Linked DNA regions of Homo sapiens. The protein of the gene in region 1 purifies or fractionates together with the protein of each later gene. This does not show direct contact. Each region holds a gene or a part of one and is shown in the gene's direction. Other genes may lie near its edges.

Evidence for each region.
Region 2: the proteins of DOK6 (region 1) and RET purify together in Homo sapiens (affinity purification with western blotting, with the first as the bait; one study listed by BioGRID). This does not show direct contact.
Region 3: the proteins of DOK6 (region 1) and CNN1 purify together in Homo sapiens (affinity purification with mass spectrometry; one large-scale study listed by BioGRID and IntAct). This does not show direct contact.

What each region holds. Positions count from the first base shown.
Region 1 is NC_000018.10:69,399,394-69,403,687, forward strand, and holds the start of DOK6 (docking protein 6), read left to right. Parts: upstream 1-1,494; 5' UTR 1,495-1,851; coding exon 1,852-1,917; intron 1,918-4,294. UniProt on the Homo sapiens protein: DOK proteins are enzymatically inert adaptor or scaffolding proteins. They provide a docking platform for the assembly of multimolecular signaling complexes. DOK6 promotes Ret-mediated neurite growth. May have a role in brain development and/or maintenance.
Region 2 is NC_000010.11:43,083,569-43,087,068, forward strand, and holds part of RET (proto-oncogene tyrosine-protein kinase receptor Ret isoform a precursor), read left to right. Parts: intron 1-3,500. UniProt on the Homo sapiens protein: Receptor tyrosine-protein kinase involved in numerous cellular mechanisms including cell proliferation, neuronal navigation, cell migration, and cell differentiation in response to glia cell line-derived growth family factors (GDNF, NRTN, ARTN, PSPN and GDF15).
Region 3 is NC_000019.10:11,541,851-11,545,350, forward strand, and holds part of CNN1 (calponin-1), read left to right. Parts: intron 1-3,500. UniProt on the Homo sapiens protein: Thin filament-associated protein that is implicated in the regulation and modulation of smooth muscle contraction. It is capable of binding to actin, calmodulin and tropomyosin. The interaction of calponin with actin inhibits the actomyosin Mg-ATPase activity.

The sequences.
Region 1 (4,294 bases):
AGTTTATGCAAATTTTCTGAGAAGGTCAGAGCTTGAGCCCATTCCAGGGAGTTTATGCAAATTTTCTGGGAAGGTCAGAGTTTGGGCCCATTCCAGAGTGACAGCGGAAAGGATTTTACCATGTTATCCTTAGTATCTGATCTGCCCCAGCATCTGGTACTTTGCACGGTGGAAGGTTTTTTTATTTAAAAAAAAAAAAAGGCTAGCCCACATTAATGAATGAATAGGAATAGTGTGCTGTTAAAGCAAGTAAGAATTTCCATTGGTTTACACGGGCTCTAGATGGAGATTTCTGCAAAGGATGAGACAAAAATCTCCCTTGGATGCTCATCTGGTTGGACTGAGCTACCTTGTCCTTCAAGTTTTTACATTCCCCCCACAACCTCATTCAAGTAAGTTTCCTTTCTTTCTATTATTGTGTTTCAAATGGGGTAGGAAATTTTAAATGAGAACCTGGAAAAATACTGCTCACCGTAATAAACAAACATCATCTTTTGAACTTTTACTAAATATAACTCTTGCAGGAGTCACCTTAAAAATTGTCAATCTTTATACATTTTACTAATTAGAAACATCCTTAGAAGTAAGTACTAAATGTTCTAGCCTATAGTAAAAATCCATATGTTGCCTCCGGCCAAAACTCAACATCGCTCTTTTTCCTCGAATCTTTCACAAAAACATAATCCTAAAAATTAAAACATCTTTACAATAATGAAAAACCTACTTTTAAAATGCCATGTGTTTCTACATTAAGGGGAGAAAGTTTTTCATTTTTTGTTTGTACAAGTTGAGCATTTCAGGAAGTCATTGGTATCCATTGATAACAACCACGTTCTCCATTTTCCCAGAAGAGCCAGGAGCCACTTTCAGTCCTAGTTAACGAAAACGCATGCATAAATCAACCACTCGGGTCGGTCGGTCTTCTCCACTCCTTCAGCAGAGGACGTCGGCGCCCGGCTGCCTCGCCCGCCTGCCTGTCTCTAGGCTGCGGGAGGATTAGACACATGCGCACGATTGGTCTCTTTGTGTGCACCAGGAAGGGTCTGGCGTCGATTTACACTTCCTAACGGGGCAGAGACCTGGAACGGCCGCGAGTGCTTGGGAATAAAAATGTACTGTAAACAAGGCCAATGAAATAAGTGTCTCGCTCCCGCTGGCCTTCCGCGTTGGAAGTGTCCCCACTGCCCTTTCCCCGCTGCACAGCTTGCGAGTGGAGATTTAGAGCCCGGGAATGAGGCGCCGTGTCCTTAGGAATCTCGCGCCCGGGGAGCGCTGAGGGACCGGGGAGCCGGGTGGGGAGCGGGCCTCGGGGCGCCCGGCGGCGGAGGCGCTCCCACCCGCGCGGAGAGGGATGGAGCGCGTCTTGCGAGCGTCTCCGAGCCCAGCCACCCCACGGGCCAGGGGGAGGGAGCGGGGCCGGCGCATCAGCCCGCCCCCCCCGGCCCGCCCCCTCCCCCCGCGCCGGGGAGCCGCGGTGGTGCGCTCCGGCCAGCTGTGCGCCGCCGAGCGAGGCGCCAGCCCGTGGGTGCTGCCGGGGGCGGCGGCGCGGTGGGGGCTCCCGCAGCTGGCGGAGGCGCGGGCCGCGGCGCTGGGCTCGCGGCGGGGAGCGAAGGTGAGCGCCAGAACGCGGAGGGCTGGCGCGGCTCGCGGCGCCGGGCCCCGTTCCCCGTCCGCGGCGGCCCTGCAGGCGACCCCGCGTCCCCACCGGCGGGAGCTCGGGGAAGAGCGGGCGGCGGCGCTGCTGCTGGCGGCGGCCGGCTGGATGCGAGACCCGCGCAGACCCGGCGGCGGACGGCGGCTCTCGACTCCGGAGAGCGGATCGCGGGGCGCAGGAGCCCGATCGCGCTGGCCATGGCCTCCAACTTTAACGACATAGTCAAGCAGGGCTACGTGAAAATCCGCAGCAGGAAGCTTGGGGTGAGTGGCTCGCTCGGCTTGCTCCTTCCCCGGCGCTCGTTCGGCCCGGCTGGCTGCCTGGGGGGGGGGCAGGGAGAGGTGACCCGTGCGGGTACAGGGCAGAGAGGGACCCGGCCCTTAGGCGGATGGCCCGCTTGTTGCTTGGCCAGGTGGGGGCCCACACCTGCCGGGGGGCTCCGCAGACGGACCTGGGGACTCCAGGAGCGCCTGAGTCCCCATCCTCGAGTGCACCGGGCTGTCTTCGACCGTGCGGGGAAGTCAGTAGACGAAAGGGGTTGTCAGTTCCAACGAGGAACGTGCCTTGGAGGAGGTTTCTTTGCGGTGCTATCCACGATGGTCTGTTCTCAAAAGTGTGCGCCTTTCGGGTGGAACTGCTGTGTGTGGCGACGCTCGCGTGTGTTTAGAATCACCATTTTCTGGTCTCCGCTTCCCAAGCTCAATTCGAAATTCCCGTCTGATGCCCTCCCAGCGCCGCGCGTCCCTGCCGGCTGTAGTTTAGGGCGCCTTCGCCGTGGCCGAGGGCGGCTCCCGCGCCCCGCAAGTGCTCCCCTACCCGGGGACCCGCGCCCGCGTGCAGGCAGGTGTGTGCCCCGCGCCCGCCCGCGGTCACTGCTCCGTGACGGCAAAGTTGATGGAGACCTTTCCCTATTCTTGAGAGATGCGCTGCCTGGCTTGGGAGGGAAACCGTGTAGAACCCAAGGGTTCAAAACTATTCTAGTGACCAGACGAGGCGGTAGGAGGGACTCACGGGAGGCAGCGGGACAGGAGGGGCTGTCACCTGGGCGGGAGCAGCCTAGACTTGGGACGCGAGAGAGAGGATGGAGGGATGGGCAGGAGGTCCCTGGGGAGCGCGCGATGTAGGGTGGCCTGGGAGGCTGACCCCGGCTGGCTGGTCCAGAAAAGCGAGGGGAAACTCGTCTGGGAAAGAAAGGGCCCCTGTTCCAGACTCTGGTTGTGTCTACCTCACTGTTCTCCAACTTCCAGTTCTACCAAGCTCCTGCCTCCCGGGGCAAAGGGTCCTTGAGCTAGAACCTTTCCTGTGTTCCCTGATGACTGGATGAATCCTCCAACTTGGAGAAGGGGAAAAAGAGGGGAGGACTTTGCTAATTTTTGTGTAAAAAAGAAAGCAAAAGAAGGGTAGTGTTAGAGAGTGGAAGAAAGATAAGGTAGAATCCCCGAAAGAGGGCAGATCACCAAGCACCAGGAGTCGCTTTGTCGGGAGTTGGCGGCGCCAGGTGTTGGGGACAGGAGGACGGGAAAGGCAGACTTGACTCTTGGTGCTGCCTCTGCTGGGTTTCGCATTAAAGGTGCAGACTGTACCCCAAGGACAACAGGGGCCCATTCTGGAACTTCAGCAGCTCTGTAGTAGGCTGGGAGGCTGCAAGAGCGAGTGCGGAGCTGGGTGACAGCAACGCCCCCCTTCCTCCAGCCTGGAGCCAACGTGCGCTGCCGTGAGCCCCACCAAGGCGAGAGAGAGCAGGCGCCAGAGTCAGATCCTCGGCCAGGTTTCAAGGGCTTTTCTTGGGTAGAAGAAAGCGCCTCATTCTTTTCCAGGCATATAAGGACGAACCCACGGGAAAAGCTGCGGTTCTCCAGGAGTCTGGTTGTTCCTCGCAGCCGGGACGGAATGCTCAAGTCTGTCACCACACAGCTGTCAGCCAAGGGAGGTGCAGAGCTGGAGGTGGAAGGGAGTCGTCTTCTTAGCTTGACCTTTGAAGCCCTTTGCTTTACGACTGGATGCTTGATCATTTTTCTCGGCCTTTGATCTTCTTGAAATCGCAATTGTATCTGATGCCTCAGACTATATAAACTAATGGATGAGTTAAGTCCCAGACAAGATGTATGTCTGCGTTCACAGAGTCACCTGCATATGAAAATGAGACTGAAGAATGTAGCCTGAGCATCCCCTTCCTGCGCACTTGGCCCTGGAGTCTATAGGATTCCCCTCCACCCCATCCAAGCCCTCCAGGATTTCACACAACAAAAACTGAGTATGTAACCCAATTATAACATAGGGCCCAAGGAAAGTGCATTGATTGCTTCTTGGGTAACTATGGCATTCACAGCGTTTGAAATGTCATCTTGAACGCCATTTCTGCCTAACGATGTGTGCAAATGTATATTTACACTTACAAAGCCTCTTTTGCTGTGTTCACTGTTTAGAGCTTTGCCTTTGTAAAGTGCAGCCTTCATAGAAAACAATAAAAGTGTGTTCATATAAAAGTTAATTGCTTTTGTCCTCCATTTCTACCTGAGAAATGTAAACTTCAAAGTTAGATATTGAAACAGTTTTGTTTTAAATTAAATCAAAATATTAAATTCACCTTGACTATTTTGGGAACTTTTTTTTTAAGTCAGATACTTTTCTATTCAGAAT
Region 2 (3,500 bases), on another chromosome or scaffold:
CCGTGGGATCCTGTCACATGGTCGTTCTCACCCCAGGAGGCTTCAAGTACAGAGGACGCGGGGATGGGGGCACGCAGGGGTGTACCTGCACACACTTCTGCCTACCAGCTCTCCATCCCTTGTCCTGGTCCACATAGCAGGGGCTCCTGGCGGGCCCAGCAGCTGAGGGGGACAGAGGGGGAAACAGGGTAGCAAATAATTATGGTTTACTCTTTTTTAATTGTGAAATTTGTGTAACATAAGTTTAACCATTTATAAGTGAACCATTTGGTGGCATTTAGCACATTTACAGCATTGAACAGGCATTGCCTTAGTTCCAAAAAATTTGCATCACCCCAAAAGGAAACCCCATACCCATTAAACAGCTGCTTCCTGTCCCCGGGCAACCCCCAGCCTGCGTTCTGTCTCTGCGGCTTGGCCTGTCCTGGAACATTTCATCTGCATGGACTGTTGTCTGGCTTCACTCAGCATAAGGTCTTCAGGGTTCCTCTAGGCTGTGGCACACATCAGCCCCTTCCTGTGAGGGGTAAATAGTGTGCCGTCACCCATTCATCTGGGGATGGACACGTGGGTGCTTTCCACCTTTTGGCAGTTATGAAAAATGCTGCCAGGGACATTCCTGTTATAAATACCTGAGTTCGTGCTTTCAGTTCTTTTGGGTACATACCTGGACATGAAATCGCTAGGTAATTCTGTTTTATATTTTGTGGAGCCGCCAAACTGTTTTCCACAGTGGTTGAATTGTGTTACATTCCCAAGGGTTACAATCTATCCACATTCTCACCACCACGCATTATTCTCTGTTATTCTCTGGTTCATGTCTCACTCTGGCCGTGCAGCCAGTGCACAGTGCTAGCTCGTTGTGGCTTTGGTTTGCCTTTCCCCGGTGATGGCGTGCTGGGCATCTTTTCCTGTGCATGCTGGCCAGTTGCATGTCTCTTTGGAGAAGCATCTCTTCGAGCCCTCTGCCTGTTGTCTAACTAGATGGCTGTCTTGCCATACAGCTGACTTTGCTGTTGCATCTGCATCAAGAGCTGCAGAGAAGCAGCTTTATCCAGGGCCGTCACTGTCAGTGATTGAGCCCCAGGTCCCTTGTGAGGAGAGTGTGGATTCGTCTGATTCCTCACATGGGCATTGAATCACCACTGCCCTCGAGGACCTTGAGGACATTCTCGGAAGACCTGGACTCTGAGGCCACGTTGAGCACCAACATCTGGAAACCATGGTGTCACTGCTTGTGCATAAGAAGGGGCCTCTCAGGAACCGCCCTGTGAAGGATGGAGGAAGGGGAAGGTGCAAGGAGCCAGCAGACCCCCACCCCACTGACAAGACGAGACTCAGCAGCAGGGGAACCAGGGCCGCCCTCTCTCGCTCATCCTGAACCCTGACTCTAAAAATAACCAGGCTGATAATCGGATCCGCTGTAAGTTGATTATCATCATTGCCGTGGTGTGATGTCATGCTGCCAGGCCCTGGGGCAGTTTTCTCAGGACAGCGGTGGATGCACCTAGGCAGCTCTGGAGGCCAGCATGGAGCTGGGGGGCCCTGAACCGAGGGTGGCAGGCAGCCTCTGTGGGCTCCTGCAAATCTGCTTGGTGGGGGTGGAACACTGGCATCCATAGGCAGGCACTCTGTGCTCCCAAGGAGGAGTTCCTGTCCCCATTCGCAGCTAGGGACAGAGCCAGGGAAGCCAAGTGCCCAGCCCTGGCAAACAGCGGGGAAGCACAGGGGCATGGGCTGGGCCGCTCTGCCCTGCGTTTCTGCTCCTTCCTGCTGCTGAACTCTCTCCTTTCTGCTGCTGAACTCTCTCCTTTGGACTAGGCCTTTGTCTTCTTGCCTCATCGTCAGTGGCCTGGGAGGACACTTGCAGTCTTAATCCTGTTTTGGCCCCATGTCCCTCACCCCCCAGGGGCCACCTAGGCCAGAGCCTGTCCTGATTTCCATCTCGGCCACCGTCTGCCCCTCGGCCCCTGGTCAGGAGCTCATTCTGTGGATACTCCTGCATAGACATCACGTGGACTCAAAGGGCATGAGGACCTCGGCTGAGAGGAGCTTACACATCAGTGCAAACCTCTCATTTTACACAGGGAGAAATCGAGGCCCTGAGGGAGGCGTGAGTTGTCACACATGGGGGTAGTGTCAGATGAAGACTTGGCACCACTTCCCTGGGCATCCCCTTCCCTGCATGGCATCCCCAGCCTTGGGTTTGGATTCTTCTTCACCCTTGATGTTGAGGTCTTTGCTCCCAGGACCTGGATAACAGCATCCAGATGCAGGTGGTGCCCCCGCATCGGGCTGCCTGGCTGTGACCTGGGGCATCAGGATTGTCAGCTTGTCTGGCCCCAGGTCTGTGCTGGGCTGAAACCTACTGTCTCAGAGGCTCCTGGCTCTCTCCCTCTGCTCTCCACTGCTCTTAAGAGCAGACCCTCAAGCCTTTTTTGTGTCCTCTCTCCAGGGAGAGCCCAGCTTCTACTCTGCAGCCCAATGCAGAAGGGGTGGTAGCTCACGGTGCCTCGGCTTCTCTGCATGCCTGTCACTGAACAGAGAAGCCCAGGCCAGACTGCAGCTTAATTCCTAGCCTCTGTGTGGCCTCCAGCAGGGTACCTAAGCTAGTGCTGCCTCATTTTCCTCCTGTGTGAGATGGGAATCCTCATGGTCCCTACCTCTGACAGTTGTTTTGATGCAGTGGGTGATGCAGATGAAGCGCCCGGAGCAGACCTGCTCATGAGGAGCACACCGTGGATTCCTACTGGTTAATGTTGAACAGGGATGAGAAGGGGCTGGGGTAGGGCGAAAATGGGCAAGACCATCTCAGCTTGAGGAACATGAGCTGACAGATTGACTTAAATTTGCACATGGACATGATCTGAGTCACTGCCTTGCTGAGTGCATGGGGACAGTTGCCCAGGCCAGAGGCACCAGGGTCAAAGCCAGTGGTGATGCCCTGGCCCCGTTGCCCCAGGCCAGGGCCAGTGAACAATGTAATCAGCTGGGGCAGACTCTACAGCCCTGCAGCCAAGGGGGCCAGTGACCCTTACATGGTCATCCACAGGCCACTTGGGTGGCCAGTCCTGTTCAGCCAGGCCTTGCCCTAGGAAAGAAATTAATTATAACCTAATTGGCAGTTTCCTTTGCATAGAAGCCGGAAGCAACTGCCAGTGAGGCTGGTGATTAACTCTGCAGCAGCTGGGAAATTGCAGTTGGGCAGGAGCGCCCATCATCCTGGCCAGGCCGCTGCAGCTGGTCTGGGTATGGAAGTGTGGGTGGTGGCCATCGTGCAGCTTAGGGCCTGGGCCCCTCAGAGCAGAAGGCTGGGTCTGTGTGCAGAAGGTAGCCTTGGGCTGCCAGGTCCCCCAGTGCCCAGTTGCGGACCTCCTTCTCCCAAACCTCAGCCATGCCTGGACCCCTTCCCCACTCACGGCAGAAGGCTGCATGGCTTTTAGGGGTGTCAGGAGGCTCATGTCCTGGTTGCAGTTCTACCATGGGTGTGCAGCGGGAAT
Region 3 (3,500 bases), on another chromosome or scaffold:
CCAAAGTGCTGGGATTACAGGCACGTGCCACCATGCCCGGTTAATTTTTGTTTTTTTTTTTTTTTTTTCAGTAGAGATGGAGTTTCACCATGTTGACTAGGCTGGTCTTGAACTCCTGACTTCAAGTGATCCACCTGCCTTGGCCTCCCAAAGTGCTGGGATTGCAGGCACATGCCACCACGCCTGGCTAATTTTTGTATTTTTTTTTTTTTTTTTTAGTAGAGACAGTGTTTCACCATGTTGACCGGGCTGGTCTCAAACTCCTGACCTCAAGTGATCCACCTGCCTCGGCCTCCCAAATTGCTGGGATTACAGGCATGAGCCACCTCGCCCGACCTTCTTCTTCTTCTTCTTTTTTTTGAGATGGAGTCTTCCTCTGTCACCCGGGCTGGAGTGCAGTGACATGATCTCAGCTCACTGCAACCTCTGCTTTCCGGGTTCAAGTGATTCTTGTGTCTCAGCCTCCTGAGCAGCTGGGATTACAGGTGCCCACCACCTTGCCCGGATAACTTTTGTATTTTTAGTAGAGACGGGATTTTGCCATGTTGGCCTGGCTGGTCTCGAACTCCTGACCTCAAGTGATCCACCCGCCTTAGTCTCACAAAGTGCTGGCATTACAGGCATGAACCACTGCACCCTGCCGGCCCTGGTTTTCTCCTCGCCTCAAAACCTCATTGCTGAGGGAGGTGAAAACCCTAACAGCTCCCAAGCCCCAGTTCCACTGCAATCTTTTTTTTTTTTTTCAGATGGAATCTTGCTTTGTGACCCAGGCTGGAGTGCAGTGGCATGATCTTGGCTCACTGCAAGCTCTGCCTCCCAGGTTCAAGCAATTCTCCTGCCTCAGCCTCCTGAGTAGCTGGGATTACAGGTGCCCGCCACCACGCCCAGCTAATTTTTGTATTTTTAGTAGAGACGGGGTTTCACCATGTTGGTCAGGCTGGTCTCGAACCCCTGACCTTGTGATCCACCCACCTCGGCCTCCCAAAGTGCTGGGATTATAGGCGTGAGCCACCGCGCCCGGCTCCACTGCAATCTTAATGCATAGCAGGGCCCTAAACCCAGCCTGCGCCCGATCTGCATTTGAGTCTGACCCAGGGCAGAGTGACTGTGAGTGGCCTCGGGAAGACTTTGAAGGTGCAGCTTCATCAAGTCCTAGATGCTGGGAAGAAGGGGTGTGGGGGGTGTTTACCTTGTTCCATTCCCATCCACTAGGAACAAGGAATTGGCAGGTGGGGAGGTAGGCATGCTGGTGTCCCAGCTCAGGCAGAGGACTGCTCAGACGTCAAACAGTGCAGTCCCAGCCTGGGCAACATAGCCAGATTCCATCTCTACAAAACATTTTTGTTTTAATTAGCTTGGCATGGTGGCATGCGCCTGTGGTCCCAGCTACTCGGAAGGCTGAGGTGGGAGGATCGCTTGAGCCCTGGAGGTCAAGGCTGCAGTGAGCTATGATCGCGCCACTGCACTCCAGCCTGGGCAACAGTGAAACCCTGTCTCAAAAAAAAAAAAACTAATGTAAACGACAAGTTGATGGGTGCAGCAAACCAACATGGCACATGTATACCTATGTATCAAACCTGCACGTTGTGCATGTGTACCCTAGAACTTAAAGTATAATAATAATAATAATAATAATAATAAAAGAGTGGGCCGGGCGCGGTGACTCACGTCTGTAATCCCAGCACTTTGGGAGGCTGAGGCAGGCGGATCACGAGGTCAGGAGATCAAGACCATCCTGGCTAACACGGTGAAACCCTGTCTCTACTAAAAAAAATACAAAAAATTAGCCGGGCGTGGTGGCAGGCGCTTGTAGTCCCAGCTACTCGGGAGGCTGAGGCAGGAGAATAGCGTGAACCCGGGAGGCGGAGCTTGCAGTGAGCCGAGATCCCACCACTGCACTCCAGCTTGGGTGACAGAGCGAGACTCCGTCTCAAAAAAAAAAAAAAAAAAAAAGACCTAATGTAAATGACGAGTTGATGGGTGCAGCAAACCAAAATGGCACATGTATACCTATGTATCAAACCTGCACATAGTGCACATGTACCCCAGAAGTTAAAGTATAAGAAAAAAAAAAAGAGTGTAGTGCAGTCACCCACGCACTCCGGTCATTCACTCATTCATTCATTCATTCATTCACAAAAGAAGCATTTATGAGTTCCTGCTGTGTGCCAGGCTCTGGCCTAGGCACTGGGAACAGTGAACAGAACAGACTCGACTCAGAGCTCAAGGACTTTTAGTCCAGTTGAGGAGATCAATCATATAATTGATCAAATAATCACAGATTTGTGGTCGTAAGTGTCCTGGGGAAAACTCAAGCGGAAGGGAAGATGGGAGGGTCAGGTATATGTCTGCGGGTGGAGAGTCTGCAGTTTCCTAGAGAGTGGTCTGGGAGGCCTCTCTGAAGAGGTGACATTTGAACAGAACCTTAGATGAAGTGAGGGAGGGCTCAGGGGACCTGAGGCAAAGCAGAGGGGGCCACCAGTGCAAAGGCGTGAGGTAGGATCGTGCTTGGGGTGTTCAAGAAACAAGAAGGAGGCTGGCGTGACGAGCACCAAATGATTGAGCAGAAGTGGAGATGAAGTCGCAGAGTGAACTGAGAGTCAGATGGTGGAGGGCATTTTATTTCATTTATTTATTTAGAGACAGAGTCTTGCTCTGGTGCCCGGGCTGGAGTACAGCGGTGCAATCATAGCTCACTACAGCCTCGACTTCCTAGGCTCAACTGATCCTCCCACCCCAGCCTCTTCAGCCCCAGCCTCCTCAGTAGCTGGAACTACAGGCACACATCACCACGCCCGGTGAAGTTTTCGGGTTTTTTTTTTTTTTTTTTTTGTAGAGACACGGGTCTCACCATGTTGCCCAGGCTGATCTGAAACTCCTAGGCTCAAGCCATCCTCCTGTCTCGGCTTCCCAAAGCACTGGGATTACAGGTGTGAGCCACTGTGCCCAGTTCTACAGAGGGCATTTTAGGCAGAGGACTTAGGATTTCATTCTGAAGGCAATGGGAGGCTCCTGGAGGATTTGGAACTGGACGGTAACTTGAACTGTTTAAAAAAGGCCATTCTGGGCCAGGGGCAGTGGCTCATGCCTGTAATCCCAGCACTTTGGGAGGCTGAGGTGGGCATATCACTTGAGGTCAGGAGTTCGAAACCAACCTGACCAACATGGTGAAACCGCGTCTCTACTAAAAATACACAAAATTTAGCTGGGCATGGTAGCAGGCACCTGTAATCCCAACTACTTAGGAGGCTGAGGCAGGAGAATTGCTTGAACCCAGGAGACAGAGGTTGCAGTGAGCCGAGATCCCGCCACTGCCTTCCAGCCTGAGTGACAGAGCAAGACTCCATCTCGGAAAAAAAAAAAAAAATTCTGGCTGCTGGATGAAGAAGGGTGGGTCTGTAGGGGATGAAGTGGAAGTTGGGAGCTCATTACAAGAGGCCAGGAAACAGACTCTGGTGGCTGAGACCCAGGTGGAGGTGGCGGGGAGCAGTGGGTGGTTT